7 linked regions of the Homo sapiens genome follow. The protein of the gene in region 1 purifies or fractionates together with the protein of each later gene. This does not show direct contact. Each region holds a gene or a part of one and is shown in the gene's direction. Other genes may lie near its edges.

Region 1 (4,478 bases):
TCGAGTAGGCGGGACTAGAGGAGTGTGCCACCACCCCCGGTTACCTTTTGTATTTTTTTTAGTAGAGAGGGGTTTCACCATGTTGGCCAGGCTGGTCTCAAACTGCTGACCTCAGGTGATCTACCTGCCTTGGCCTCCCAAAACGCTGGGATTATAGGCATGAGCTACCACACCTGGCCTAAGTACTGCTATCTTGAAGGAGGCAGACAGAAACCAAGCAGTCATGGGTGGCGGGTGGGCTGAGTCTCTGTAAGTTGCCCAGGGAAGATAGCTCTGACAAATAATTAGAAGTTGCCAGCCTTGTGTACAGCTGAGAAAAGAGCATTCCAGGCAGAAGAGACAGCAAGTGCAAAGACCCTGAGGCCAGAATGGCCACCAAAGTTGTTTGGTTCCGTGTCCTGAGCTACCAGCTTGGCAGATGGCTGGTGCCCAAAAAATGCTGGAGTGAGGGAATGCCCTTCTTTTGCCCTCCCTTCCTCCCAGTCTGTGTGTCTCTAGAAGGTTGCTGCTCCGCCCACAGTGGAGGACACGTGAAGAACTGGAGTCCTTTTCTGGGGCAGACTCCAATACTGGGACAGAGAAACTCTTCTGCCACGACCATGGAACTGGGAGGTCCCAGTGTCTTTCTTTCCCAACTGCTCTGAGAAAATCGGCCAGTGGCAGGTGGAAATGATATGGAGCCACAGAGCAGCAGGGCAGCAGAGAGGGAGAGCAATGGTAGGGTAGACAGTACAAGGCTCCAGAGAGCTCCTGGATAAAGCAGTGCCGGAAGCTGGCTCCCTCCAAACCTCCATTTACAAATTTTCTCTTCGTGCAAGTCAGTTTGAGTTGGGTTTGTCACTTGCGACTGAAGACGTCCTGACAAATGCCCCAAAGCTACCAGCTCAGAGATGCCCAGAGGCCTCTCCAAAGCTGCCTCCTCAGGTCCCCACTGGGGCCCTGTGTTGTCCTGTCCCTGGACGGCCTGAGCTTCTCGGTGGCCGTGCCAGCCTGGACAAGAGCAGGCCTTCCTTCCGAGAGGCCCGTGGCCACTCCCCCATTCAGCCCTTCTCTGACCCGACAGCCTAGTCGAGGAGCCGGGGCGCGGGCCTCAGACCCTCAGGGCCCACGAGAAGCCAGGGCCGGCTGACCAGGTTCGGCGTGGCCAGCGCCCAGTGGGAAGCACTGGCCGACCTAGCCGAGACTACATGGACGCTTCCAGCGAGTGTGGACGCGGCAGGCGGCCAAATCGCGCCGGGCCTCGGTCCCCATGGCTCGGGACATCACAGCGCTCAGTCTCCAACCTCCGCAGCTTCCGGCCAGACGCCGAGACCCATAACTCCCCGCGCGCGGCCTGGCCCCTCCCCTCCGCACGCCGGTCCCGCCCCTTGAGCCCAGTGCGCAGCCTCGGATTGGCCAGGGCGGCTTTCGCTCCTCTGGTGGGCGGGGTTGCGGGCCACACAGCGGACCCCTAAGCGGACCGCTGGCACCGGTCGGGTGGCAGCAGAGTGTCGCTCGACATGGGGGAGGCCGGGGCTGGCGCTGGCGCCTCGGGAGGGCCGGAGGCAAGCCCGGAGGCAGAGGTGGTGAAGCTGCTGCCCTTCCTGGCGCCGGGCGCGCGGGCGGACCTGCAGGCGGCGGCGGTGCGGCACGTGCTGGCGCTGACTGGCTGCGGACCCGGCCGCGCGCTGTTGGCGGGGCAGGCGGCGCTGCTGCAGGCGCTGATGGAGCTGGCGCCGGCCTCTGCCCCGGCCCGGGACGCCGCCCGCGCGCTCGTGAACTTGGCCGCCGACCCCGGCCTGCACGAGACATTGCTGGCGGCCGACCCCGGGCTGCCAGCGCGCCTGATGGGCCGCGCGTTGGACCCGCAGTGGCCCTGGGCCGAGGAGGCGGCCGCCGCGCTAGCCAACCTCAGTCGCGAGCCGGCGCCGTGTGCAGCGCTCATGGCGGCGCTGGCGGCCGCGGAGCCGGCAGACTCGGGCCTGGAGCGGCTGGTGCGCGCGCTGTGCACGCCCGGCTACAACGCCCGCGCGCCCCTGCACTACCTAGCGCCGCTGCTCTCCAACCTCAGCCAACGCCCTGCGGCGCGGGCCTTCCTACTGGACCCCGACAGGTGAAGCCCAGGGCGCCCGCGCGGGCGGGGAGGGGACGGAAGTTAGGGGGGACGGCCCTAAGTGACACCTCCCAACAGGTGCGTGGTCCAGCGGCTGCTGCCCCTTACCCAGTACCCCGACTCCTCTGTACGCAGGGGCGGGGTGGTGGGGACGCTGCGGAATTGCTGCTTCGAGCACCGTGAGTGGTGGGTGTGGCGGGGGTGCGTTGCCAGGTGTGGGGACTGGACTCCGGGGCTGCTCTGGACCAGTTTCCATTCCCGTCTCCCCACCCTCACCATCCCTCAGGACATCACGAGTGGTTGCTTGGACCTGAGGTGGACATTCTCCCCTTTTTGCTCCTGCCCTTGGCTGGGCCTGAGGATTTCTCCGAGGAAGAGATGGAACGTGAGTGGCTAGTGTGGAGCCTCAGAGTTGGCCGGAGAGGAGGGAGGCCAGTGGAGGGAGAGAGAGGTGTCCAGGCCACAGGCTCCTGAAACTTTGCAGCAGTGAGTTGCTGAGCACAGGTGGGACTTACACAGGCAGAGCCTGGCTCAGCTGCCCAGCCCAGGGACACAGTGGCTCCCACACACTCACCCCTAGGGCTGCCTGTCGACTTGCAGTACCTGCCACCAGACAAGCAGCGAGAACCTGATGCAGACATCCGCAAGATGCTTGTTGAAGCCATCATGCTGGTGAGCAGGAGCCCTGCTGCAATAAGCACCACCCCAACACACACACATGAGCATGCTGACATCTGGGTAACCTCTTCCACCTCCTCAGCTGACAGCCACAGCACCAGGTCGGCAGCAGGTGCGGGACCAGGGAGCCTACCTGATCCTTCGAGAGCTGCACAGCTGGGAGCCGGAGCCCGACGTGCGGACGGCTTGTGAGAAGCTCATCCAGGTTGGTGCAGGGTTGGAGAGGCTGGGGAAGGGGTGTCTGTAGCTGGCCAGCTGCTCACCTGCTTCCCGTCTGGCAGGTGCTTATTGGGGACGAGCCTGAACGTGGCATGGAAAACCTGCTGGAGGTGCAGGTGCCTGAGGATGTGGAGCAGCAGCTGCAGCAGCTGGATTGCAGGGAGCAGGAGCAGTTGGAGCGGGAGCTGGCCCCAGAGCCATGGGTGGAGAGGGCCACACCCACCTGAGGCCCCTGCAGCCGGACACCAGCTCCAGGGTCCCCTTTGCCAGGCTTTCTCAGACCAGGCCTTCCTGCAGCTGTCTGCAGGCCCCCTGGGTCCCCTTGTTCAGAGACTGTGCTCTTCTGAGAAGCAGAGCTACGCTTAGGCTCCAGTAAGGATTGGAGGCACTTTCCAGCCCTGTGCAGTGTTGCTACCAGCAAGAATGAAGGTTGTGCAGAGCAGTACTGTGAGGTAGGCACCGTGACTCGGCTGCCTGTGCAGAAGGTGGAGGTGGCAGGCGGATGGCCAGGGAGCCATGAGAAGACTCTTCCTGGGCACGGCGTGGGGACTGGACAGAAAACCACTGCAAGCCCCAAGGAGCCAGCTGAAGCCTCCCAATCCCCAGGGCACTGCAGAGTCTGGGCAGAGGTGGGCGCATAGGTACAAGTGCTGCTTTGTCAGCCTCACTCCCTGCAGCTCTCAGCTCCCTGTTCCCTGAGACCTGGCCTCAAAGGGCTGACCCAGCCATACGTAGATCCTGGGGTCTTTCTAGGACTGTGCCTCCCTGCTTGACCTATGCTCCAGGACCCTGCCCTCAACCCTTGTCAGCTCCCTAAGTCTTCCTGTTTCCCAGTCTCAGATTGAGTGGGTGCTCTCATTGGCCTCTCTAGCTAGGCCGTCTCCCTGGTCAGCTTCCTTGAGCCTGGGCCACTCCTCCCTGGCCTTCTTACCTCTGCCAAGAGCCTCCAGATGTGCCTGCAGCCTAGTCCCTGCCCAAGCTTCTCCCCCAGCCACCCTCTGCCCCTGTGGTAGAGCCCACTATAGGCCCAGGCGCCTTACGTGCTTCTCCCCTGGACCTATGTGCATCCCTCACCTGCCAGTTATGTGGCTGCCAAGCCCCACAGGCTGTCATGGTGGCTCTTGCCACACTTCCCTTCCTGAGCTGACCTGACCTCACTGCCACCTCTTGCATTGGGATCCTGAGGGCTGGCCCCTGCTCACTGATGGGCCCTCCCAGGCCCGTCAAGCCCTGGTGAAGGAGCTTAGCTTGTCTTCTTGGCAATTCACAATGCCTCACTCCACACCCTAAAACTGGAGCGTCCCCTATGGTCTCCTGCTGTGGCTTGGGTGCCGGGCGTCTCCCGCCTCCAGGATCTCCTCTCACCTGCCCCCATTAAAGCTCTGCCACTCATGCAGGCATGTGTGGACCATGTTTTCCCCTGGCCAGAGCCCCCACCTGCCACTGGAGGCCAGTTGCCCTCTTAGCACTCAGACATCAGCACTGTCTT
Region 2 (4,488 bases), on another chromosome or scaffold:
AACGGGCTATCTTTTCATCTCCATTTTTTTTTCTCAGTAAGATGGAATCTCCTTTGGAAAAAAGTGTCAAAAGAAAGCCCTCCCCCCAACTAAACTGTCAAAAATGTCAGCAACTATCAAATTAGAAACTCTTATGAAATAAAAGCCTATCCAAGACTTTAAAAATACCTTTGAGGAATCCTAGTTTTTGGAAATGACTGTTGCCTTCACTTATTTCTAACATTTCTTTTTTCTTTTCTTTTTTTTTCTTTCTTTTCTTTTTTTTTTTTTTTTACATGGAGTCTCACTCTGTTTCCCAGGCTGGAGTGCGGTAGCGTGATCTTGGCTCACTGAAACCTCCACCTCCTGAGTTCAAGCGATTCTCCTGCCTCAGCCTCCCAAGCAGCTGGGACCAGAGGCGTGTGCCAGCAGACCCAGCTAATTTTTGTATTTTTACAAAAATACAAAAATTTTATTTTTGGGGTGTGCTGGGGTGTGCCAGCAGACCCCAGCAGAGATGGGGTTTCACCATGTTGGCCAGGCTGGTCTTGAATTCCTGACCTCAGGTGATCCACCGGCCTCGGCCTCCCAAAGTGCTGGGATTACAGGCATGAGCCACTGTGCCTGGCACCTCTTTCCTTCTTGTTTGAACATCTTTTACAGATCTTGATTATATTCTACAACATAATGGGTGGTCTCTGGCACACTGCCTTTTTGCTATTATTATTGATACTTTATGAAGACCAAGTGTGCTAAGACATTGTACATTTGCGGAGCCACCCATTCTCCCCTTTAACATCTTTGTTTCATGTCACTCTTCACTGCATTGCATGTCATCAGTTTCCCATTCTGCAAGTATTTCTTCAATCAGTTTCCCTTTATTATTAGCCATACGAGATCCAAAAATCCCTTAGCAGGTTAATGTGGACTGGGTGCAGTGGCTCATGCCTGTAATCCCAGCACTTTAGGAGGCCAAGGTGGGTAGATCACCTGAGGCCAGGAATTTGACACTAGCCTGGCCAACCTGGTGAAACCCTGTCTCTCCTAAAAAATACAAAAATTAGCTGGGTGTGGTGGCATGTGTCTGTGGTCCCAGCTACTTGGGAGGCTGAGGCAGGAGAAAGGCTTGAACCCGGGAGGTGGAGGTTGTGGTAAGCCAAGATCATACCATTGCACTCCAGCCTGGGCAACAGAGCAAAATTCTATCTAAAAAAAAAAAGAAAGAAAGAAAAGAAAAGAAAATAGTAGGGCTTTTTCATTGTTCAGCTGAAACCTCTCCAGCTCCTCATAGCTGAATTTCTGGGAACGTTCCCTCCTCTGTTCATTGATATTCTTGTCCCTGACCCCAGCCCCCGCAAGGCCCCTTCTGTGTACACTTGACTGAATTTTATGGGCCTCGTGGATATGCATGGGCTTATCTCCAGACATCATAAATTAACCACAGCTGATCTCATCCAGACTGCCTTCTGACAGTAACCACTGATGAAGAACCCTCCTTTGAGAAGCTGCCTTTGTGTCCTACAGACAGGCTGGGGCCAAAGCCATTCAACCAATCCCCAGATAATCCAGAGCTCTTGGGAGCAGAACCTTAAAGAGAGATCGTGGAGAGAGCCAGGGCCCAGAAGAACTCTCTCAAAGGTACATTTTGACCCGGAAACTTGGGAGGGTGTGACAAGTGGGGTCTTAGGGCCCCCATAGCAAAGAAGGAAGGTCTAGAGCATCATGGTGCACTAGAAATATAATACGAGCCACATAAATCATTGTAAGTTTTATAGCAGAAGCACTTTAAAAAACTAAGAAGAGTGCAATTTATTTTAATAACATGTTCTGTGGAATCCATGTATATCTAAACGATTATCATTTCAACACATAATGAATACAAATAATTATTAATGAGATACTTTACATTTTTTCCCTATACTTTGTCTTCAGAATCAATAGGTATCTTACACTTACAACATAGAACAATTTGAACTTTCCCATTTCAAGTGCTCAAGAACCAGAAGTAGCTGGTGGCTGCCATATTGGTTCTGGAAGGGGACAGCCAGAGAAAGTAGGGAAGGTGGTCTTGTGGGTGAGGTCCTTTCTCTGTTAATAAACTCAAAGAAATGGGTTAAACCAGATTCTATGAATGATGTAATGCTAAGGAAGGTTGCCTGAATCCCAAGCTTAGGGAAGAAACTGAAGAAAAGGGAACAAGTTACCTGTTAAGAGACTGGGTGAATTACTTATTAAATTCTTGGTAGTGGATTAAAATCTTCATGGTTCTGTCAATGTTTGGACCATTTCTCCAAGGTAAGGCTTACTCTCCCTATTTTAGGAAAAAGAAAGTTGAGATTCAAAAAGAGCTTACTGAGATCCTGTTGCTTCTCCCTCCAAAGGCAGCCTAAATATGTAATAGAAGAGGTGTGTGTGTGCGCCTAGAGGTGGAGGGAAGGCTTACACTGAAGTTTTGTTTCAGATCTGGGGTCATTTGCTGCTGAGAAGCAGAAGGACTCATTATTTTGAAGGTACACTATACTTCAGTGACTTTACAGCCCCATGTGTGCCTGTAATTATTCACAATGGCTTCTATAGTTTAGGTTTTATCTCCACTAAACAGATAGGAATACTGACTTGGAGTTCAGAGAGGTGAAATGACCTTCCCAAGGCCACCCAGTTGAAACATGGGAGAGGTAGGATTTGAACCCTGGTTGGTTGGGTGCTATTATCTTCTCACCGCTCCACTGTGAAATTATTTTGGCTTAAGAGAACGAGAGGGCAGAGGCTGTGGGCTAAGCTGCCTCTTGGGCACCCTATCAGGGCCTTAATACTACCAGTTGTATCTGCCATTATTTTCCATGTTGGGTGGTAGATATTGGTGCCAATGTCTTATCTATAGCTGTTTGAAGACAGCTATCATATCTGGTTCCTCTTGGTACCCACCACATTTCCTTATAGATGATAGGGTTCTTGAATACTCATTGGATGGGTGGTGGATTGAAGGAAGATTAAAGAATGAAAGGAAGGATGGGTGGATAGAAGAATGGATGAACAGTGAAAGAATGGATGGATGGAAGGATGGATGAGAAGTGGATGAATAAACTGAAGGATGGATGAAACGATTTATCTCTGATTGTTGAAGGCAGAAATCATGTATGGTTCCTCTTGGTACTTGACACAGTTTCTTATGGATGGTGGGTTTCTTAAATACTTATTTGATGAATGATTGATGGATGGATGATAAGAGGATGGATTCAATGAATAATGGATGAATAGAAGGATAAATGAATGGACAGATGAGTGGATAGATAGATGGCTGGTGAAAGATGGGCAAAAGGATGGGAGAATTGATAGACAGATGGAAGAATGGGTGGAAGGATGAATGGGTGGATGAATTGATGGATGGATGTATGGATGATGGAAGAAGATAGATGAAAAGATGGATAGATGGAGGAATGGATGTAAGAATGGGTGGAAGGATACATGGGTGGATGGGTGGATGGATGGATGATGAAAGAAGAGTTGGTAAAGGGATGGTTGATGGATGGATGGATGAGGGAATATTAACAATGAAGAGTATCATTAAGCAGAGAAAAAATTTCTCAGAAGGTAATATTTTCAGGAAAGTTTGAAAGCCAATAAATAACAAAAGTAAAAGAAGAGAATTAGAACATTCTCAAAATGTTTGCTTAATTAATTAATTACTGCCGGTCTAGCATGGTGAATGAATGTTATCATCATCATCATCGTCATCATTAATGGCCAACATTTATTGTGAGTTATCTCTATAGCACGCATTGTCTTAAGCATTTTGTATCTTTCATCTAATTCAATCCTCCCAACAACTCTATGAAGTAGAACTGTTTATTAGCATCCCCATTTTATAGAGGGGTAAGCTGTGAAGTACCTTATTAAATGTCACTCTGCTAGGCACCACTGAAACATCCACACAGGTTTTTAATTACTGGCATGCCAGTGGAATTGGAATGCCAACACCAAGAGGCCCCGGCACAGCGCTTTGCTCTATAGATGTTCAATAAATTTGGTAAGTCAATAACTACCTCATAAAATTAATCCATTCCTAAGACAGCCATCTCATTGTTGCAGATTTTTCATTTTGTGATTTTAAACTGCCTCCTATTGCTTTACTCAGGGTGTTCTATCTTTTTTAAAAACCATTTTAACTCTGCATGTTTTCATGTGAGCATATGTGCATGCATATACCTGTATATGTGCACATATGATGTGTGTATATTACACATGCCTGTATACATATATACACATCTATAATGTATACAGGCATGTGCACGTATATGTATATACACATTATGTATGTGCATATACATGTATAATTACTGTTTCTAAAATGTTTTATTGATACACAACAATTGTATATATTTATTGAGGTACGCGTGATTTTTTTTCTTTTCCTTATTTATTTATTTAATAGACATGGTGTCCCACTCTGTTGTCCAGGCTGGTCTCAAATTCCTGGTCTCAAGTGATCCTCCCACCTCAGCCTCCCAA
Region 3 (3,996 bases), on another chromosome or scaffold:
TGCTGATAAATCAGCCCACTGTGTCTCCAGCCTGTCTGTGCCTGAGGCCTGCTAAGTAGGGAGTTTTCTGTCTGTGTTGGGTGAGGAGCAGGGGGCACTGCTTCCCCAGCCTGAGCCTTTCTGGGCTCCTACAGAGGAACCACTGTCAAAAGCAAAGCTGAGACCCCCAGGAGAACCCCTCGTGTTTCCAAGAAGCCAGCATGGATCCTTAGTCTAACTCCCAGGGAGCAGCAGCTTAGAAGGACAGACTTGTTGGGCCAAATGGGGCCTGGAAATTCCCACCAGCTCTCCCCTTTTCAGCTCTCCCGAAGGCACCCAGTGGAAACCCCAGATGTTGTGTGCATCCTGCAGGCGTCCTCTCTTTGGGCCTCTTAACACGCAATCCAATTGCCCTGATGTCCAGCGGCTTCAGGTCTCATTCAGGGCAAGCCTGGCTGTTTGCAGGCCTGAGTTTCAGCCATTCACTCCTCATCAGAGCTGGCTCTGGTCAGCTTATGGCCCCAGGAGGCCCTATGGGCTCTGGGCTCTGCAGACCTAGGAGGCCTTCTTGCTTCATGCTGTAACAGTGGACAAAGGCGGAGGAGCTAAACAGCAGGGGAGGTGCACAAAAGCCCTTTACGGTTGGGCATTTTACAAAGTGCTGGGTCCTCTTCACCTCTATACTTTTCACCAAGGGCTGGCATAGTGGCCATTGTCACTGACTCCCAGTGGTTGATACTCACCTTGGGCAGGCCAAGCTGTGGATAGAGGCAGTTCATCTAAACAAAGACAGGACCCCTCCGAGATGAGTTTGTCATCTGGATGGCCCTAGGAGCCAAGTGCTGCCCCCCACCTGGAGTAATGCTTACCTGGGGATCCCCAGCAGCCCCTACCCTCACCTCTACCCCAGATGCTACCTGGTTCCCCCTGCCCACGTTTCTCCCTCCCATATCTCCCTGGCCTCTTCACTCCCTTCTCTGGGTGACCTCATCCCTTTCTGGCTTCAGACACCAAGTATATACTGATGCTTCCCCAGTCTATGTGCCTGGAACTCTCAGTCTCTGAGCCTGGGACTGCACAACCCCCCTAGCACCATGCTCAGGGCTACAGTGAGGATGGCACCCCATGCAGCTACACGAGGTGGCCCTGTGGGTCCTCATTCGGAGTTGTCTCCCAGCCACCTCCCTGTCATCCCCCAGTGTATCCCACTGGCACTCAAATCAGCCACGCATACCTGTGAGCATTCATCTTCCTCCTACATGTGTACCCTAAAGCATGCTACAGCCCCCCACCATGCACTAAGCTCCTTAGGCCTAGCCCAGGATGGATAAAGGTTTTGGGAGGCATTTTCTATACCTACTAGAGCCAGCTGTCCCCAGTGGGTGAGGGCAAGGTGGAAAGGGATAGTAGTGACTCTTCTGTCCCCAGTCCGGAGCTATCCCCTGTGAGCCCTGTGGCATCGAGGCCTCTGAGGAAGAAAGTCTGGGAGCCGCACACTGACTGTGTGTTGTGTGTTTTCCCTCAACAGGACTGCACCTTCTTCAATAAGAAGGACATCCTCAAGTAAGTGTGGCTTCTCGTTCACCCTGTTGGGACTGGGACTGGGGCCGGGGTGAGGCTGGGGCACCCCACATGGGCTGGCTGTGCTCCTGGGGCTGAGGCAGAGCATCAGCATGTATCAGGAGCCACATTCAGGTCCCCACTCGGCCACTGGGCTAGGATGGAGTTAGAGCTTCCCACTCCTCCCAGGGCCCAGATCCTCCTGCTGGGGAATGAACATCTACTTACTATGAGCTTTCAGGTGGGTAGTTTCCGGCACATTCTTATTTAATCCTCATTGTGACCTTGTAACAAGAGAATCCATTTATCCCCATTTGACAGATGGAGCTTAGCAACTTGGCTAAAGTCACAGAGCCAGGGACTCAAGACCCAGCCTCTGACTCCAGGTCCCTTGCTATTTCACTGCATCCTGGGTCCTGGTATAGCAGGGAGTCCCTGTCTGTTAGACCAGGGGTCCCTAAGGGCCCTTTGGCTCTAGCTTTGATGTTCTTCCACTCCTAGGACGTCTAAAAGTTGAGGGCATGGCCACCACCCCTGAGCTATTCATCAGGGCTCTGCTTCTTCCCAGGACAGCCCTTCTCCTTGGTGTTGATGGGGGTGGGGGTGGACCTGGATGGGAAAGATAAAGGGGATCGGCAGCCTCAGAACCCCAGGACCAGTGGGTGAGCAGGAATCACTGAATACCAAGAAAACTGCCCCACGGGCCTCACTAGGCCCCTCTGCCTGGGTGGCACTAAAAGCCAGCAAAGTCCCAGGATCACTTGCCCTGGAGATCGATGGTCAGGCTGGGACCAGAGCCCATTGCAGCTTCCCAAGAGAGCTGTGCTGCAGCTTGTCACTGCCCTAACCATTCTGCTCATTCAGGCAGTGCCTCTCGGCTTTCCTCTCTACCCAGGCTGCTATTCCAACCTGTCACCTGCATGGGCAGGGGATACCCCACTTCCACCACCTTAGAGAGTCTGAGCAAGGGGCAAAGCCTCCAGGCCTGGCATCAGTAGACCTGGCATCTGTGGCCTTGGGCAACCATTTGACCTTCCCTGAGCCTCAGTTTTCTTCTGTATAATAGGGATAGTGAAACCTACCCTCATAGCATTGCCGAGAGGCAGCAACACTGGGGTATAGTGTTTGATAAGTGGGATTTGCCCTGTAGCTTGAGAGATGTCAGGGGTGAGGTCCCCATTTCGACAGGATGGCTCTCGGTATTGGAATAACAAAGCTGTCACCCCTGGCATTCTTGTGGCACCTTTTACCTTTCAGAGTTCTTGGCATGGAGCCTCATTTGAGCCTCACAGGGAGCTTCGGGTTCCCTACCTTTGTAGATGCCAAGCCCAAGCTGCCTGTCTTCTGAGGCCCACGGCCATTTTCATTCTGGCAACAAAAGCCCCTTGCCTCGGCCTTTGCACTGGCTATCTCCACTCCCTGGAGTGTCCTTCGCCTCTCCTCTGCCCACAGCATTGCTATGCATCCTTCCAGACCCAACTCCAGAATCATCTCCTTTATAAGCACCCCCAACACCCTGCCACCCTAGTGCTATCCCAGCTGCTCTAACAGCCTGTTAGGGGCTCCTTGGGTTCCTGGACCCAGGGGCCCAGCTCCCCACCAGACTTGTGATCAGGCAGGACTAACAGGGAGCATGGCACCTGTTAGCCACCAGTGACCATATGAAGAGTGTGTGGGTGAAAGACAGGTAGGATTGGCTGAGGGAGAACATTCCAGGCTGGGGAGCAGCAGAGGTGAGACACAGGCCAGCTTCTCCTGCTCCCACTCCCACCCCCATCCTCCCGTGGTCTCATTGACAGCAGCAAGATTGCCTGTGTGGGGAAGAGGAGAGAGGAGCTTGAAGGCCAGTCCGGGAATCCGATCCAATATGATGGGCCTTTGGTGGTTGTTTTAGTCCATTCTCATGCTGCTATAAAGAACTGCCTGAGACTGGGTAATTTATAAAGGAAAGAGGTTTAATTGATTCATGGCTCCACATGGCTGGGGAGGCCTCAGGAAACTTACAATCATGGCAGAAGGGGAGGCAAACACATCCTTCCTCACATGGCGGCAGGAAAGAGAAGTGCTGGGCAAAGGGGGAGAAGCCCCTTATAAAACCATCAGATCTCGTGAGAACTCACTATCATGAGAACAGCCTCGGGGTAACTGCCCCCATGATTCAATTACCTCCCACCAGGTCCCTCCCATGACACGTAGGGATTATGGGAACTACAATTCAAGATGAGATTTGGGTAGGGACACAGCCAAACCATATCAGGGGTATCCCTGGCCCCTTGGAAAATGAGGGGCTCCAGGCAGGTGAGAGGGCTTGAGGAGAGGCGTCCTGGCTCCCCACAGCCCTGGCCTGCACCCCTCTGCACGCATCAGGACCCTAGGCTCTGTAATTCAACACCAGAGCAAAACCCAAGCCTGAGGCCCCGTCTGCAGCATGGGGATGACATTGCTTGCAGGAGCTGT
Region 4 (3,996 bases), on another chromosome or scaffold:
TATGGGAAGATACCATTAAAATTCTAAAACAAGACTGTGTATTTTTAGGGAGAAGTATATGGTACATTAATGGAAATGGATAATGAAAGTCCTAGAACATACATTCTTAACATAGTTATATTGCCCCAAGAGGACAAAAATTGGGTTTTGGGAGATGAAAAAAATCCCTCCAGAGCTTATACCTCTATCCAACAAAATCTTATTCCTTAGTATTTAGTTTTTTCTCATTAGAAAAAATTTAAATGTAATTAATTTTTCTCCTTAAGGATCACTAATGAGAAAAAAATATGGCCAAGAAACACTGGTTTCTTGAGGGAGGCACATAGGCTCACCAGTCACCCTGCTTCAATTTACTAATTACCTGAGCCTGAGGGGAAGGTATCCACCCTCTTAGTGCCTCTATTTCCTTACCCACGGAATGAGCATAGCATTAATGAAGCCAACCTGATAGGGTTATTTTAAGGCGGAAATGAAATAATTTCTATAAAGCTCAGAATAGTGCCTGGCACATATTCTGGGCACATATTGCCCAGTGCATATTAGCAAGCATTGTTATTATTGCTCAGCAAGCCTTGTGGCAGGGCTGGGGGATACAAGAATAAATAAGAGAAATAAGTTTTGCCCTGCCAGAGTTTACAGATATAGTGGGAGATACACAGATAAAACAAAAAGTTACAACGCTTTGTCACCCATGCAGGAATGCACAAATACAGGAAGTATGGGTGCTCTGGGAGGAAAGTGGAGACCCAAGAAAAGATTTAGAGGATCAGGGAAGGCTTCTTGAAGGAAGACCACTAGGCTGAGGACAAATTAATATGAGTTATTTTGGTAAAGGAGAAGAAAAAGCATAGGTGAATGTCAAGTGTCCCAAGGTATGTGTGTGTGTGAGAGAGAGAGAGAGAGAGGGAGCAAAGCATTTAGAATTTTGTTTTGGATGGTTGCACTACAGTGGGGCATGAGATTGTAAACAGTGATGTCCCTAGAGCCACCTATACCAACTCACAGAAGCAGATTGTTAAATTTTCAGGAATTTCGCGAGCCAATTGACTTCATGCCAGCAGCTTGAAATCAGCCACATGGAATAGTTATACTGCAGAAATCGGCAAGTGCTAGAATTAGCATAAATGGGTTAGGTTATAAAGTTGGAGATTTTACAGGGTCTTTCAAACCGTATTAATGAATTTAACATTGATCTTAAAAGAAGTCTTTGTTAGCTTAATGGTCCCAGCCTTTGAAATAGACCTGGGTTCAAGTTCTGACTTTCGATAATAGTTTTATTGAGCAAGTTTATTAATTAACCTTAACCAGGGTAGTTGCATTATTCTCACCGTATTTTGGGAATAGTGGCAGCCTCTGATGGTTGGGGAACTAAGCCCACGGGGAAGGAGTCAGCTATACACTGGGACATTAGGTCATAGAGATAGATAGCTTCTTCTGGAGAGATGCAGACCATTGGGTCACTTGGTTCCCAGGATCCTTTGGCCAATGATGGGCCTCCTAATTATATGTCAATTCCTCACATGTAATTTGTACAGTGAAATTTAGTCCAAGGCTGACTTGCCCTTGCCCCGAAGCTTCTACTGATGTCTTCTCTCTTATTATCAGTTTTGCCCAAGTTCAAAGAAGGTAAAAATAATTTAGATATAGCATCTTCTTAGGCAAGCATAATAAGCAGCTCACTCAGTCACCTTAGCCTGGTATTGTCTGGCACATCAACTTGCTTTCTTTTCCAGTGAATTCAGGGACCTTGTAAAGATAAATCCACATTCAAGTGTGAAAGGCCTGAAAATCCTTTTCTAAGGCCAAAACAACAATTTTTTAGAAAAACTTTTGGTTTTGTTTGTTACTCTATTCATTGGGTAACAAAGAGCATTTTTCTAATCAAGGCTGCCTAATACTACATATAAACGAATTAATATGAACAAATAGCTTGTGATTGTTTCAAACAATAATAGGGAAGAAAGCTTGCATTGTCACGCCTGCTGGGATTGCTGTTTAGTTAGTTGAAAGATATGCCTTGTTTTTTGAAGTGGGGCAAGTTTGTATTCTCTGCTTTACCCCTGCCTTGACTCTGAGACAGATTTTTGTTTTCTCATGCTGAGAGAGCACCTAGCTCTTACAAAGCTAGGTGATGAATACTAAGACGAAACTGGACTAGCAGCAGCAAGAAGATGCCGTGTTTGTAACCGATTTATAATTCTGCTGGTCCAGACACTGAAAAAGAGTTTTCTTATCCAAAGGAAACTCCTGGGATGTATTTGCAGACAGGAACCTGTTCATCATTAGGTTGAGTTAATGTGTTCGTATCCTGTGGATATTGGGGGCATGGGGATGGGGTAGGAAACCAAACAAACTTGCAGCTCTCCAGAGCCATTTTCTGTTTCTAGCACTGTGTTAAGCATTACCCTGTGCTTGATCAGGTTACTGTGGATAGAAGTTGGATTAAAAGTTTCATTTTCATTGTTCATGAAAGAGTCAATAGTTCAGTACCAGAGTGAGCAGTTTGGCTTCTCTTAAACCTAGGATTATATTAGAGGCCAGAATAGGTATCTGAAAACCTAAAAGATATTCAGGTCTCACACCTGTGATTCCAGTAAGGCAAGAGTCTTCTTTATCAGTATTTTTCATGGTGTATCATTCTGTCTCTCATTTGTTACATGACCATTTTGTTATTTTTTAATTTTCATTTTTATATTTATTTGAATTTAAATTATTTTATTCTAAAATATTTTACTTTAAGTTCTGGGATACATGTGCAGAACATGCAGGTTTGTTACATAGGTATACATGTGCCATGGTAGTTTGCTGTACCTATCAACCCATCATCTAGGTTGGTTTTTTTTTTTTTTTTCTTGAGATGGAGTCTCACTCTGTTGCCCAGGCTGGAGTGCAATGTCGTGATCTTGGCTCGCCACAACCTCTGCCTCCTGAGTTCAAGCGATTCTCCTGCCTCAGCCTCCTGAGTAGCTGGGACTACAGGCGTGTGCCACCATGCCTGGCTAATTTTTATATTTTTAGTAGAGATGGGGTTTCACTATGTTGGCCAGGCTGGTCTTGAACTCCTGACTTAGTGATCCGCCCACCTTGGCCTGCCAAAGTGCTGAGATTACAGGTGTGAGCCAGCATGCCCGGCCCATCATCTAGGTTTTAAGCCCGCATACAATAGGTATTTGTTCTAATGCTCTCCCTCCCCTTTTCCCCCACTCCCAGACAGGCCCTGGTGTGTGATGTTCCCCTCCCTGTGTCCATGTGTTCTCATTGTTCATCTCCCACTTATGAGTGAGAATATGTGGTACTTGGTTTTCTGTTCCTGTGTTAGTTTGCTGAGAATGATGGTTTTCAGCTTCATCCATGTCTCTACAAAAGATGTGAACTTATTCTTTTTTATGGCTGCATAGTATTCCATGGTGTATATGTGCCATATCTTCTTTATCCAGTCTGTCATTGATGGGCATCTGGGTTGGTTCCAAGTCTTTGCTATTGTAAATATAGTGCTACAATAAACATGCGTGTGCATGTGTCTTCATAGTAGAAATGATTTATAATCCTTCGGGTATATACCCAGTAATGGGATTGCTGGGTCAGATGGTATTTCTGGTTCTACATCCTTGAGGAATCACCACACTGTCTTCCACAAAGGTTGAACTAGTTCACATTCCCACCAACAGTGTAAAGGTGTTCCCATTTCTCCACATCCTCTTCAGCATCTGTTGTTTCCTGACTTTTTAATAATCATCATTCTAACTGGTGTGAGATGGTATCTCATTGTGGTTTTGATTTGCATTTCTCTAATGACCAGGAATAATGAGCTTTTTTTCATATGTTTGTTGGACACATAAATGTCTTCTTTTGAGAAGTATCCGTTCATATCCTTCACCCACATTTTGATGGGGTTGTTTTTTCTCTTAAATTTGTTTAAGTTCCTTGTAGATTCTGGATATTAGACCTTTGTCAGATGGATAGATTGCAAAATTTTTCTCCCATTCTGTAGGTTGC
Region 5 (4,090 bases), on another chromosome or scaffold:
CTTTTTTGTTTTTTTTGTTTTGTTTTGTTTTTAAGCAAAGATGAAGGGAAAACGAACTAAGACAGACGCTAGGCCATGTTGGCAAAGTAGCATCTTGGTGACTAAGGTGACTTTGTATATTCATCTTAAAAATTATGTTCTTTAGACACTGCTACCTGAAAACTGTTGGAGAAATAATGTTTAAAGTTATTTAAGAAAAACTGTTACATCACTAAGTATTAATAAATTCTTCTTACCTGACGTAACTTCTCAATGCCTAAATTCTGTAGTTGAAGCTCTGCTGCAGAGAGTTGGGATAATTTTCTTTTGGTGGATCAGCTCTCATAAAAAAGCTATGATTTGCTCAAATATGCTGTTGACTCAGTAAATGAATATATTTTTTTCTTTAAATAGGAACAACCTCTTTTAAAAGAGAAAAATTATTTCAGTGATTTGTCAAAACGAATTACCTCTTTTGGCATGAGCTAATAATTGAGGGTGCTAATTTTCTTAAGATAGTGCCTAAAACACTAAATTTCAGTCAAGTCGTAAGTAGGATTTTCTTTTTGATCAACAGGGACAAAAACATCTTTAGAATTAAAAACATGGTTGTTTTGGAATTTTTGCTTCTCTTACCGTTTGATAGAAATTTTCATCCTAAAATACATGTACAAAGTTTGGAAAGATGAAAAAAAGAGGTAGCTTTTAGATTGCAAACTGGAAATGTAAAACTCATGAAATTTAAGCAATATAGGTTTAGCTATCTGTGTTTATTTTCTAAAATAATACCTGAGCTGGTTAAATGATTTCTCTCCATCTTAGCTAATTCTGTTTAAAACTCTGTCAGAGGCCTGCAGGCTGTGAGTTATATTTATAAATATATCTTCAGAAATTAATCTTAAAAGAGGCATTAGTTCAGAATACTTTTTTAAAAGTTTAAATTAAATATTTAGGCACGTCAGGAATTACTTTTCCTTATTTTGAAATGAGGCTACTTATGTCTTGGTTTTATTTTGTTCCATGTTTAAATCATTCACTTTGATTTGAGTGGGAAAAGCCTGAAGCCTTTATCATGTGGTTGCTGGTGTGTGTAATTATTAATGAAATGTTCACTCCTAGTCCCTTATGAGGCTTAGAATTTCAACCACGTGTCAGGTCAGACAGTATTATAAACTGTACTTTGCTGTCTGAGACAGCACATTTGTGAATGATGCTTGCTGCCTGCCATTTTCAACCTATTCTCTCTTAAGAGTGCTAGGTACCAAATTGTGAAAGTTTGTTTTCAGTTATATTACTTTTGAGGCTGGTGAAAAATTTAAATGTAACTTTGTGGGAACACTGATTCATATTTAGAAAATGTAAATGTCTGTAGCACTTTCTTGCAGTTAATTTGAAAACTTTGGATGCTGAACCTTGTTTGTCAGTGATTTAGATGATTTAAAAATGCATGTGTGATTTGAATTTTATAATTGTTTTGACAAGCATAATTTACTTGGACAACTTCGTAGGTAGCCTTAACTTCTGGCCAAGTTTGTTTTTTATATAAATATATATACATATATACATATTATGTATGGTTGTAAATTCATACACTTATCACATGAATGTGTTACTGTATACAAAACTCTTAATGCTTTATTCTCAAATGCTGGGTTGAAAAATGTTTTGAAAGCCTTTTAAAATATATATCTTTATAAAGTAATATTCAGGATGATGATAAAAATTGTTTATATTGTTATGATAAAAATGACAGTATAATGTTGCCCAGTGTATTTAATGATTTATTTGAAGAGGGATTGGGAAGGAACGTCTTCATACCACTTTCTCCTTTGAAATTTTCAGTTTATTGACTTTTAAAAAATGAATACCTCAGGCAGTAGACATTTTTTTTCTAGTATCATTTAATTGATACCCTGTGCGCTAAATAGTGTGTGGTGCCTGATTAATTTGGTCTGAATATTTGATTCTTTCTGTTCCTTTCAACTTGACATTCAGATTATTGACTCAAGGAGAGAGGCTCAGAGTGGAATGGTTGGCGCTGTGGGTAAGGTTGGATCTCCCTTAAAACTGCCTTTTGGATTCAGTGTTTGTGCTTGAGTTCGCTTTCAAATATGACCATAATCGTGTGGGTGCAAGACTGTACAGTGATACATATGTAGAGGTAAAGCATTCATTTTAATACTTAAAGTTATATAAATCTTTTCAAAAAGTGTTTTGTTATAAAATACGCTGTTTGTACCCATACCAGCCCACCTCTTCTGAGGCCCTGTATTCAAATAGATGATAGTGATCTATCTTTCCTGCATGAAGTGTAGGTGGCGAGTGGGCGAGGGGCGCAGACTTCTTTGAAATCGAAGGGTACAGTCAAATCTACTGCTGATTTGGTTGTTTTGTTGCTGTGGCAGAATATGCCATGAAACACATACAGACTTCTCCGAACGTGCACCCTCATCAGCCACCTCCTCCCCTCTTTCCCTGAGTGCTGTGAACACAGCAGACCTGCACACTTCTGCAGATCCAGCTCCTACAGCTTGGGGCACTAGGCTGCCTTTCCTAGTCCTGTCAACAACCATACAGTGCGAATTGCTGAATTAGCTGCTATTCTATGTGGAGTCACATTAAGCTTTTTCTTATCTTTTTCTATGGGGAAGCTATAGGGTGGGTAAGGAAAAAATGTTGAATGCTTTTACTTTGCTGAAAATATTAGAACTCTCTTGTGACAGGATACAGCAAATTATAATTAAATATAAATTACCAGAACCAGAGCTACCTCTAAGTCATACTTCCTCAAGCACAAAGCTCTCAGGCATATGAGACCCACCTTAATGAAGGGTCTCTGATTTCTTGAGCATCAGCGAGTTTCAGAAGTGACTATTTTTTTGTACTCTTCTAGTTTCCTTGTAACTATACACTTTTTCCCATTCCACACTGTGCTTAAATGACAAAGACTCTTCTGAGAAGCCAAATTCTGTCCAAGTATTAACTAGAGATATTGTTGATTAAAGAAAATCTAGAACTGAAGTGAAAGAAGAGAGTTCCAGTTCTAATAGTCTTTTGATTAACAATTCTTTTCTGAGAAATGATTTTTATAAGAAATGGGGTGATTCTTTAAATGCTTTTCTTAAGTTGAAGGCACAACAGTTAATGGCTGTATTGTTGCTATTCCGTTGCTGACATGTTTTTGATAAAGCTTTAACATTCCTGCTACTAATTTTGGCGGAGAGTGTTTGCCAGGTTTCAATGTGGGCTGCAGCTTTTTGTGCTCCTTCTCTGGTTTGCAGTGTAATGAGTTCATAAGCTAAATTTTCAGAAAGAATTTTGTTTAAGATTATGCCTCTTATCTACTTGAGAGCAACATGTCTTTTCAATCATGGGATTGACACATGAAAAATAAAGTTATTTCTTAATCAATTTTGGGAAGCAGTCTTTTATTGAGAATCTTTGAAACTGGAGTGTCCTGCCTGAGAACACTTTGCAGTTGTTGGTCCTAGTTATATTGTAAAACTTGCAGTCCCCGCAGGTCTTCTGACCCTTCCAGAGTTAGTATTCCTAGCTGTGTGTAGTCCACAGCATACACGCAAACACACACACACTCAAATGTAGTTTTTAGTGATAACTTGCTGGGGGTTGTCTTTCAGAATGCAAACCCCTCCTTTGGGAGGTGCTTAAAATATTTCTATCAGCCTATGTATATATGTGTATGTTTTTAATTTCTTTTCCTCTTGGGATGGATGATTTTTCTCACCAAGCATTTCACAAATCATATGACCTCACTTCTGCAAAAATAGTCTCTTCGTCATTGATAACGTTCATGCAAGATTCAGTAGACGCTAGGCAGCATCACTCGGCACGTGTCCAGCTGGAGGGAGGCATGGAGTGTCATTTTCTAATCTGGGAGCGTTGTGCACTATTGAGCTCATTCTTGACTTAAAAAAAAAAAATGAAACAAAAGAGGCTAACATCCATTGCCATCCAGCTGAGGACATAACCTCATATCTGCCCATCCTCTTTCTGAGTTTTGTCCAGAGAAGGTAGTAAGTTTGGACTTGTACCCTATTTTACTTGAGCTAAAACTTGATGAAGACTTTGGGTATCTTAGGTAGATCTAGTA
Region 6 (3,996 bases), on another chromosome or scaffold:
AACACAGAGATCCCCAAAGCCACACCGACCCCTGCGTCCCATGTTCTCGACCTCACCGCATCAGCACCAGCAAGACCTGTCGCTGAGACGGTGAGTGATGAGAGTCAAGAGGAGTGACTTGCATGGCCTGGGAGGAAACCTCCTGTGAATCTTTAGTTAAGCAGGAAAAAAAAAATCCTCATGAAGGAAACAGGATCTTGGGAGCATTTTGAATGAAGAAGGAGCTTAGTGAGCCAAACTTGAGACATAGGGTGTAATGTGGGAGAGTTTTAAGATTTGCAGAGATGTACAGCTTGGGAGGGGGTGTAATGCATTTTCTTAAAAGAGCTGAATGAATGGTTGAGGAAATGGGTACATCTGGTTTGGTTAAGGATCCTAATCTCTGAAGCCTGGGATGCCCCCAGGGCTTGTAATTTAGGAATACTTCCCCTAATAGTAGCTAACCCTTATATAGTGCTGTCTGTGCAGGCTACAAAAGGAGCAGATTAAGGATAGAAAAGGTTTGGAGTGTATGAGAAACCCTAGGCAGGAATTGACTCCTGGTGTTTGTAAACCTTAAAGATGTCCTAAAAAGGTCAAGGAATAAGACAGGAGAAAAAGGAAATGTCAGGAAGATGATCAATTTAATGTTTATGGAATTTAGTTTGTACTTACTGCCCGGCATCTTGCCTGAGGTTTTTAACCTCAGCAGCACATCAGAATTACTGTGTGTGTGTTGGAGGGGCTGGGGGAGATAAAGAAATTAGCCTCATCCCAAACATTCTGATTCAGTCTGTTACTTGAGAAACTGAATTGTGTTTTGTCCATAAAGAAGATGAAATTGTCTACAGAGAACACATTGCCATTCACAAGGTTGAGGGGATACCACAGAGAGGCTCCCACTGTGATTTGCATTTGTCAAAAGTTCTAGAGAATTCTTCAACAGTACACACATGGTTGTTTTAAATATATCATTGTTATAAAAATTCGTTTTGAGTTCTGTTTCACAGAAAGTTTTTTTGAATGAATGAATGTCATATATCCTTGCTAAAGGAGCTCAGTTAAAAAAAAAGGGACCATCCTTCTCTTTTGGGGGTTGTACAGTAACACATTCCCAAGAAAGAGGTAACAGCCACATACATTTTTCTTCCCAATAAAGAGTGTGGGTTTTTAATATGAATCCATAGTATGATTTCTGTTATGTTTTGTGCTGCTTCATAACCACACTCATGCACTTTTCAGAAAATTAATACCATTCATTAGCATAAATCATAAACTATTCCCTTGGTATGGGTTTGAAATTGGGGGTGCCCTATCATCCTTGCTTTATCTCTTAGTGAATTATGACCCTGTAGTCATCATGGCTGGTGGGCGTCTCTGGTTAAAGAAAGGGTTGGATTGGAAGGATTCAGAGGCGATTCTTTGTTCTTAGGCTTTAATATTTTAATGAGCCTGCAGGCTTGGCTGCTTACGAACGAGCTGAGATTTCTAAGTGTGTTGTTAGTGTTAGCACTTGTAGAAGGATGTTCATTAGGAAGTTCTTGTTTCAGTTTTTCAGAGAAACTCCCCATTAAGAAAGATCATTCAGGAACATGGCTACCAAGAAAGAGGAAAGGGAGGAGGGAGGCTTTCAGCTATAAGCATTAAGGGGATATTGTATCAGTAGTCTTAGTTCTAAAGATTTGCTTCTGAGAATTAATTGGAGCAAATACATCTCAAGGGAAGAAAAAAAAAGATTTATAGGGCAGGGACAGTAGTTGTCCTTGCAAGTAGAGGACACTTCATTTTGCAGCTGAATCAATACCACAACTAATTATTTCTGGTTATCTTTTACGCATTTGTAAGACATTGCTTTTGTTCAGTGTAATAAAAAACCCATTGTTTGATCAGTGACTGACTAATTATGATAAGTAATTTGAAACATTCTTGATGAAACTTGTCTGTTAATTAACATCAACAGCACAGGGAAACTAACAGGACAACAAAGTATTAGTGGATCCACTGTTCCCTCCAATTGACGAGCTTTCTCTGTGGCATGCCCAATAAACTAAAGCTGCCAATGGTTAAAAAATAACAAACATGTGGGAGATCTGACTCACCACGGAGGAAGAGTTATGGTAAAGTTACACAAAGGAGTACTGAAATATTACAAGCGAGGGGGTGGTAAAGAAATGTCAGCAGGTAGCCTGATCCTACAGCTTAGAGTAAGGAAAGTGGTTTCTTTCTGTCTTTCCTTTTTCTTTTAAAGCTTAATTCCAAAATACATTCATCCCATATTGATCTGAAGTAAGAGACTTTTGATAAATTAAAGTGTGAATCTGAAAATGTGTAGTTTGGGATTATGGGCATTGCCTGGCTATCTTGTAACTGTCATTAATACTGTTAATTTTTATCAACTCAATGGCTTTTTTTTCTTATGCTTTTAGATTTCTACCTGGACAAGGACTGGTACTATACCCACAGATAGGAGACAAATTGGATATTATTTGCCCCAAAGTGGACTCTAAAACTGTTGGCCAGTATGAATATTATAAAGTTTATATGGTTGATAAAGACCAAGCAGACAGATGCACTATTAAGAAGGAAAATACCCCTCTCCTCAACTGTGCCAAACCAGACCAAGATATCAAATTCACCATCAAGTTTCAAGAATTCAGCCCTAACCTCTGGGGTCTAGAATTTCAGAAGAACAAAGATTATTACATTATATGTAAGTATAATTTTATTCATTTATTTTATAGAAATTAAGATAAGCTATATAGGTTTGTATCAATTTTTTGTTTCCTTAAAATTATTGTGACAAATAATTTGATGAAAATCTATGTGGAAAAATTGTCCCCCCCCCCTTTTTTTTTTTCAAAGAAAACTTCATTGAATTTGGGACCCTGTGCTACCAGTATTCATTAAGTATACATACCCAAAGAGAAAAAAAAACACTAGAATTCTTAATAGTATTGAAATAAATGTATTATATGAATATATTCAGCATCTCTACTGACAAAACCATTTTTAAGGACCATTGGTGGATTTTGATAGGTAAATCTTGTGCATTGCCTTTTCTCTTCACCCATCCATCCATTCATTCACTCATTCATTTCGTATTTATTCTGTGCCAGAGACTGTGCTTAAGGGCTAGGGATTCAGCAGTGAAAGGTGGTAAAATAGCATGTTTTCCTCAAGAAGTTAACAGTCTAGAGAAGATGGAGCTCATAAATTCGAAAGATGGGGATGACAGGTCACATTAAAACCAGATTCAGAAGAAAAAGACGAAACTTGGTTTGCTTAGTACATTACTCTTTTTTGCATACATATATATAATTTGACACGCTGTTTCAAGAAGAGATGGTACGTATCCCTTGGGTCATATCTGAGGCTGACTTGTGAGGATGTGAAGTCAGCTGATGAGCACATTTGGAGCCCACGCCTACTATGTGCAGATCTCTCGTCAGCGTCATTCCCAGGGCCCCAGGTGGTGTTAAAGTCTAGGTGACTCAGACAGCTGTTCGCGTCATTCAAGCAATGAAGTCTTTTTTCTTAATTTCTTTGGTTTAAAATTATACTCATAATTAATTGGGTTGAATTTTCCAGTGGCTTGGTTACCATAGACTTCAGTTTATTAGGGAACTGCTATCTGCCACTGGTTTATTATTTGCCCCAAGGTGGACTCTAAAACTTTAGGTAGGAGACTCTTGGTGATCAAACTGAAACTCTTGCATCTCAACCTATGAGCCGCACTTTATTGTTATTTTATTTTTTTAGAGACAGGGTCTAGCTTTGTTGCCGAGGCTGGCGTGCAGTGGCATGATCACAGCTCACTGTAGCCTTGAACTCCAGGGCTCAAGTGATCCTCCCACCTCAGCCTCCAAGTAGCTCGGACTACAGGCATGTGCCACTGCACCCAGCTCAAGAGCTACACTTCAAAGCACAGAATGAAAACCTATTTTTAAAGCCAACTTGATACATAGAGTAGCTTACCAAGAATTAGTAACAACAACAACAAGAAAAAAAAGAGAGAAT
Region 7 (3,996 bases), on another chromosome or scaffold:
AATCATTCCCCTGATGTTGGATATTAAGATCTCTCTGGTTTTATATAATTATAAGCAGTATCAATGAACATCTTTATCATTTTTTTCATACTTAGGATTATTTTAAAAATATGGGTTAAAGAATATGAATATCACAGTAAACTGAAACAAGTTGTCATAGGCCTTGGTCTGGGTCCCCCATAAGCAGACCCTGAGATGAGGTTCAGGAGCACGTTGAGAGGTTCAGAGAGCCTGGAGGGCGTGTACTCCCCGCCAGCCCCGCTGGGGTGCCAGGAAGGACGCTGGCCTCAGAGCCTCCCACCTGGGAGTGAGGGCGCTGGTCTGGTGGGCATTAGCTCGGGGAGCTGTTGGTTTTGGGTGCTCCAGGGTGGGGTAGCGCTAAGTCCTAGCACTTCAGGCTTTAGAGGAAGCCCCCAGGCAGAGAGAGATGGCAGCTGGCACTGACTGGAGGTGCATTGGAGCCTGCTGAGGTGGCAAGGGGCCGCGGCGTGGGCGAGACTGAAGTCCTTCCAGGAGACCCTCCTCTCTAGACCGTTGCCCCGCCACAGATGTGGCCTTCCTCTCTGTTTGGCTCTTTCTTTTCTATGCCCATCTGTCTCAAGGTCTCTGGCCAGGTGGAGCTGTTGCCCCCCTGGGCCTCCATGCCTCCAGTGGGCTTCTAGCCAGGGCACTATCTGAATGTCCTACCTCTAGCAGGCTTTGCCAAGAGAAACACTCTCTAGATTTCTGGCAGTTGCAGATGCATCTGTGCAGCATGTTTGAGAACTGGTGCTGTGCCAGGCATCGTGCACAGATGGGTACGGACGATGACTGAGGCCTAGAGAAGGGGATGACTTACCCAGCACCAGACCCGGATGGCAGCCGAGTCAGGCCCCGTGTGCTTGCTCCTGGAGATGCTCCTGAGCTGATGGGTCACAGCTGCTAAGAAAGGAGCTCTCGTGGTCCATGGGGATCTGGGGTCTCCCGTGTAGCCATAGTGGGGTGGGCTGGAGCATCTCCAGAGGAGGAGGCAGAGGCCTGTGTGTCCTTGTCAGTTTGGGACTCCATGGTGCCCTTCCTGCCTGTGCCTGCGCCATTCCTCATGCAGGTGCCCGGGAGCTGGGGGAGTTCCATGCCTTCATTGTCTCGGACCTGCGGGAGCTCCAGGGTCAGGCGGGCCAGTGCATCCTGCTGCTGCGGATCCAGAACCCCTGGGGCCGGCGGTGCTGGCAGGGGCTCTGGAGAGAGGGGTGAGTGCTGGGGCCTGGACCATGCTGCTGTCGGGAGGGGGGCCCAGTGCCAGTCTGGCCTGTGTCCTGGTCACCTTCAGCTGTCAGGACTGTACTTGGCTGTCTCCAGCAAGGCCCCTGAGTCCCTGCTCTCGTGACACCATGCTTGTCTTGGCTCCAGGCAATCCTTGTGAGGCCTGGGACCAAGGTGGCCATTGGGCCTGGGGTTTCAATAGGGCAGACATCATCACGGGCTCGGGCAGCAGTCCTGGGAAGACGCATCCAGAGGCGTGAAGTTCCTCTGGGAAAAGAGAGGGCTCCAGGGTGGCCGCTGCCCAGAAGGCCCTGTGCTGCAGAGCTGCTTCGGGTGTGGGAGGGGCTGCAGAGCTGGGGCACGGGGTTGCTGGCAGGAACTCAGGGCTCTCTGGGTCCCCTCCAGGCTTCCCCCCAGCCTGCCGGCAAGTTGACACTACCAGTTCTCGGGAGGGGCTTCTGCTGAGATGAGGTTTCTTCCAGGGGTGAAGGGTGGAGCCAGGTAGATGCAGCGGTAGCATCTGAGCTCCTGTCCCAGCTCCAGGAAGGGGAGTTCTGGGTGGAGGAGGAGGAGTTCCTCAGGGAGTTTGACGAGCTCACCGTTGGCTACCCGGTCACGGAGGCCGGCCACCTGCAGAGCCTCTACACAGGTAGTGCCCCGAGGGGCTGTGCTGGGCACGTGCTCTGCCTGCCGAAGTGAGGAGGCTGGGCAGGTGCCTGGGTTCCCCCTGCCCAGGCCCAGTTTGGTTCTCTTCAGCGTGGAGAGATGATTCTGTCCCAGGAGCCGGGAGGAGGGTGATGATTCTGTCCCAGGAGCTGGGAGGAGGGTGGGCTTGTGGGAGGGGCTGGCTCTGTCTGTGGCCGTAGCTGCTGCTTAGACCCTGCCAGGGTTCATGAGGCCACCATGGCGGGAGGCCAGCGAGGAGCCGTGTCCCACAGCTGATGCCTGGTGTTTTCTCACTAGAGAGGCTGCTCTGCCATACGCGGGCGCTGCCTGGGGCCTGGGTCAAGGGCCAGTCAGCAGGAGGCTGCCGGAACAACAGCGGCTTTCCCAGCAACCCCAAATTCTGGCTGCGGGTCTCAGAACCGAGTGAGGTGTACATTGCCGTCCTGCAGAGATCCAGGCTGCACGCGGCGGACTGGGCAGGCCGGGCCCGGGCACTGGTGGGTGACAGTCATACTTCGTGGAGCCCAGCGAGCATCCCGGGCAAGCACTACCAGGCTGTGGGTCTGCACCTCTGGAAGGTAACTCAGCCCCGTCTGGCTCACGCTCGGTTCAGCAGGTGGTGTGGAGGCCCATGGAGGTCTGGGTTCTAGGACTGGCTCTGCCGGGACACATGTGACTCTGCCACGGGCCCCACCAGTCTCCCCCCTCCTTGGGCTGTTGCACGGGGTTGACGTCTGCTGGTGCTCCCAGACCCGGCTCTGACCTGAGACTGCAGGTCTTTCTGCCTTGCCGTGTGCCTCATTGGCCAAAGGAAAGCAACAGAGTCTGCAGCCAGGGCAGGACCCGCAGGAGGGGCCTGGACCCGGGGGGCTCCTGGCAGCGCCGTGCCTTTCTGAGGCAAGGAGGTAGAGCCAGCGGCTGAGGACCTGTCAGGGCCAGTCCCAGCTCTGCAGCTTGCTGTGTGACCTGGCACACATCCTCTCCCTGCCTCCCTCAGTCTCTTCCCCTGCAAGACGGGGTCCTGACACGGATCTCATGGGATTGCTCTGAGGCCCAGGCAGTCCCAGGCTCAACCACTGGTTCACAAAGTGTGTTGTTTCCAGGAAGAACAGATGGGGGCGCCTGAGGGCAAAGGGCCTGAGTGTGGGTCGAGGATATGCCGGCTGCTCGCTCAGGGGCTGGGTTTTCATCTTGTGTGTCTTGACAGGGTGTGACACTTGGCACCACACTGTTCCCTGTCCCTTCATGGATGTGGCCCACATGATGTTCCTTTCCTCTTGCAAAAGAAGTTGCTGGAAGGCCCACTGTCCAGCAGCCCCCAGGTTGCCTGGGCCACGGTGCCTTTGTGGGCCCAGCTACAAGGAGGACTTGCAGGCTCGTGTCTGGGACAGATACTGGCGCCAGGGCCAAGTGAAGCCCGGGATTGGTGGGCATCTCTAGCTGGTCCCTGAGAGAGGGTGGAGGGTGCTGACAGGCCTTGGCGCTTTCATCTGTCAACTCCAGAGGCCCTTGTGCTTGCAGCAGGGAGGTCAAGGCCAGGGCGTCTGACCCCGGCCGCTCCTCCACACTGAGCCTCCTGCACGTGCTCACAGGTAGAGAAGCGGCGGGTCAATCTGCCTAGGGTCCTGTCCATGCCCCCCGTGGCTGGCACCGCGTGCCATGCATACGACCGGGAGGTCCACCTGCGTTGTGAGCTCTCACCGGGCTACTACCTGGCTGTCCCCAGCACCTTCCTGAAGGACGCGCCAGGGGAGTTCCTGCTCCGAGTCTTCTCTACCGGGCGAGTCTCCCTTAGGTGAGAGGAACCGCGCAGTGCTGCTGGCTCTCCGAGGCCACAGGCCCTTCCAAGGCAGGATTTGGGCACTTTCCCTCTGTGGTTGGCAGGTGTCCATGTGGGAACTGAGGCCACCGGGAACCTGCTGCCAGCGCCCTCCCATGTTTGTCTTCTTGGCAGCGCCATCAGGGCAGTGGCCAAGAACACCACCCCCGGGGCAGCCCTGCCTGCGGGGGAGTGGGGGACCGTGCAGCTACGGGGTTCTTGGAGAGTCGGCCAGACGGCGGGGGGCAGCAGGAACTTTGCCTCATACC

What was found.
Region 2: the proteins of HGH1 (region 1) and ELSPBP1 purify together in Homo sapiens (co-immunoprecipitation; one large-scale study listed by IntAct). This does not show direct contact.
Region 3: the proteins of HGH1 (region 1) and CIB2 purify together in Homo sapiens (co-immunoprecipitation; one large-scale study listed by IntAct). This does not show direct contact.
Region 4: the proteins of HGH1 (region 1) and LPAR1 purify together in Homo sapiens (co-immunoprecipitation; one large-scale study listed by IntAct). This does not show direct contact.
Region 5: the proteins of HGH1 (region 1) and SLK fractionate together in Homo sapiens (co-fractionation; one large-scale study listed by BioGRID). This does not show direct contact.
Region 6: the proteins of HGH1 (region 1) and EFNB2 purify together in Homo sapiens (co-immunoprecipitation; one large-scale study listed by IntAct). This does not show direct contact.
Region 7: the proteins of HGH1 (region 1) and CAPN10 purify together in Homo sapiens (co-immunoprecipitation; one large-scale study listed by IntAct). This does not show direct contact.

What each region holds. Positions count from the first base shown.
Region 1 is NC_000008.11:144,136,337-144,140,814, forward strand, and holds the start of HGH1 (protein HGH1 homolog), read left to right. Parts: upstream 1-1,437; 5' UTR 1,438-1,499; coding exon 1,500-2,092; intron 2,093-2,170; coding exon 2,171-2,271; intron 2,272-2,378; coding exon 2,379-2,477; intron 2,478-2,672; coding exon 2,673-2,764; intron 2,765-2,852; coding exon 2,853-2,975; intron 2,976-3,051; coding exon 3,052-3,216; 3' UTR 3,217-4,478.
Region 2 is NC_000019.10:47,993,195-47,997,682, forward strand, and holds the start of ELSPBP1 (epididymal sperm-binding protein 1 precursor), read left to right. Parts: upstream 1-1,437; 5' UTR 1,438-1,617; intron 1,618-4,488.
Region 3 is NC_000015.10:78,121,251-78,125,246, reverse strand, and holds part of CIB2 (calcium and integrin-binding family member 2), read left to right. Parts: intron 1-1,507; coding exon 1,508-1,542; intron 1,543-3,996. UniProt on the Homo sapiens protein: Calcium- and integrin-binding protein that plays a role in intracellular calcium homeostasis. Acts as an auxiliary subunit of the sensory mechanoelectrical transduction (MET) channel in hair cells.
Region 4 is NC_000009.12:110,965,337-110,969,332, reverse strand, and holds part of LPAR1 (lysophosphatidic acid receptor 1), read left to right. Parts: intron 1-3,996.
Region 5 is NC_000010.11:104,025,844-104,029,933, forward strand, and holds the end of SLK (STE20-like serine/threonine-protein kinase), read left to right. Parts: 3' UTR 1-3,390; downstream 3,391-4,090. UniProt on the Homo sapiens protein: Mediates apoptosis and actin stress fiber dissolution.
Region 6 is NC_000013.11:106,511,222-106,515,217, reverse strand, and holds part of EFNB2 (ephrin-B2 isoform 1 precursor), read left to right. Parts: intron 1-2,405; coding exon 2,406-2,689; intron 2,690-3,996. UniProt on the Homo sapiens protein: Cell surface transmembrane ligand for Eph receptors, a family of receptor tyrosine kinases which are crucial for migration, repulsion and adhesion during neuronal, vascular and epithelial development.
Region 7 is NC_000002.12:240,592,819-240,596,814, forward strand, and holds part of CAPN10 (calpain-10), read left to right. Parts: intron 1-1,087; coding exon 1,088-1,229; intron 1,230-1,724; coding exon 1,725-1,891; intron 1,892-2,205; coding exon 2,206-2,486; intron 2,487-3,500; coding exon 3,501-3,703; intron 3,704-3,862; coding exon 3,863-3,996.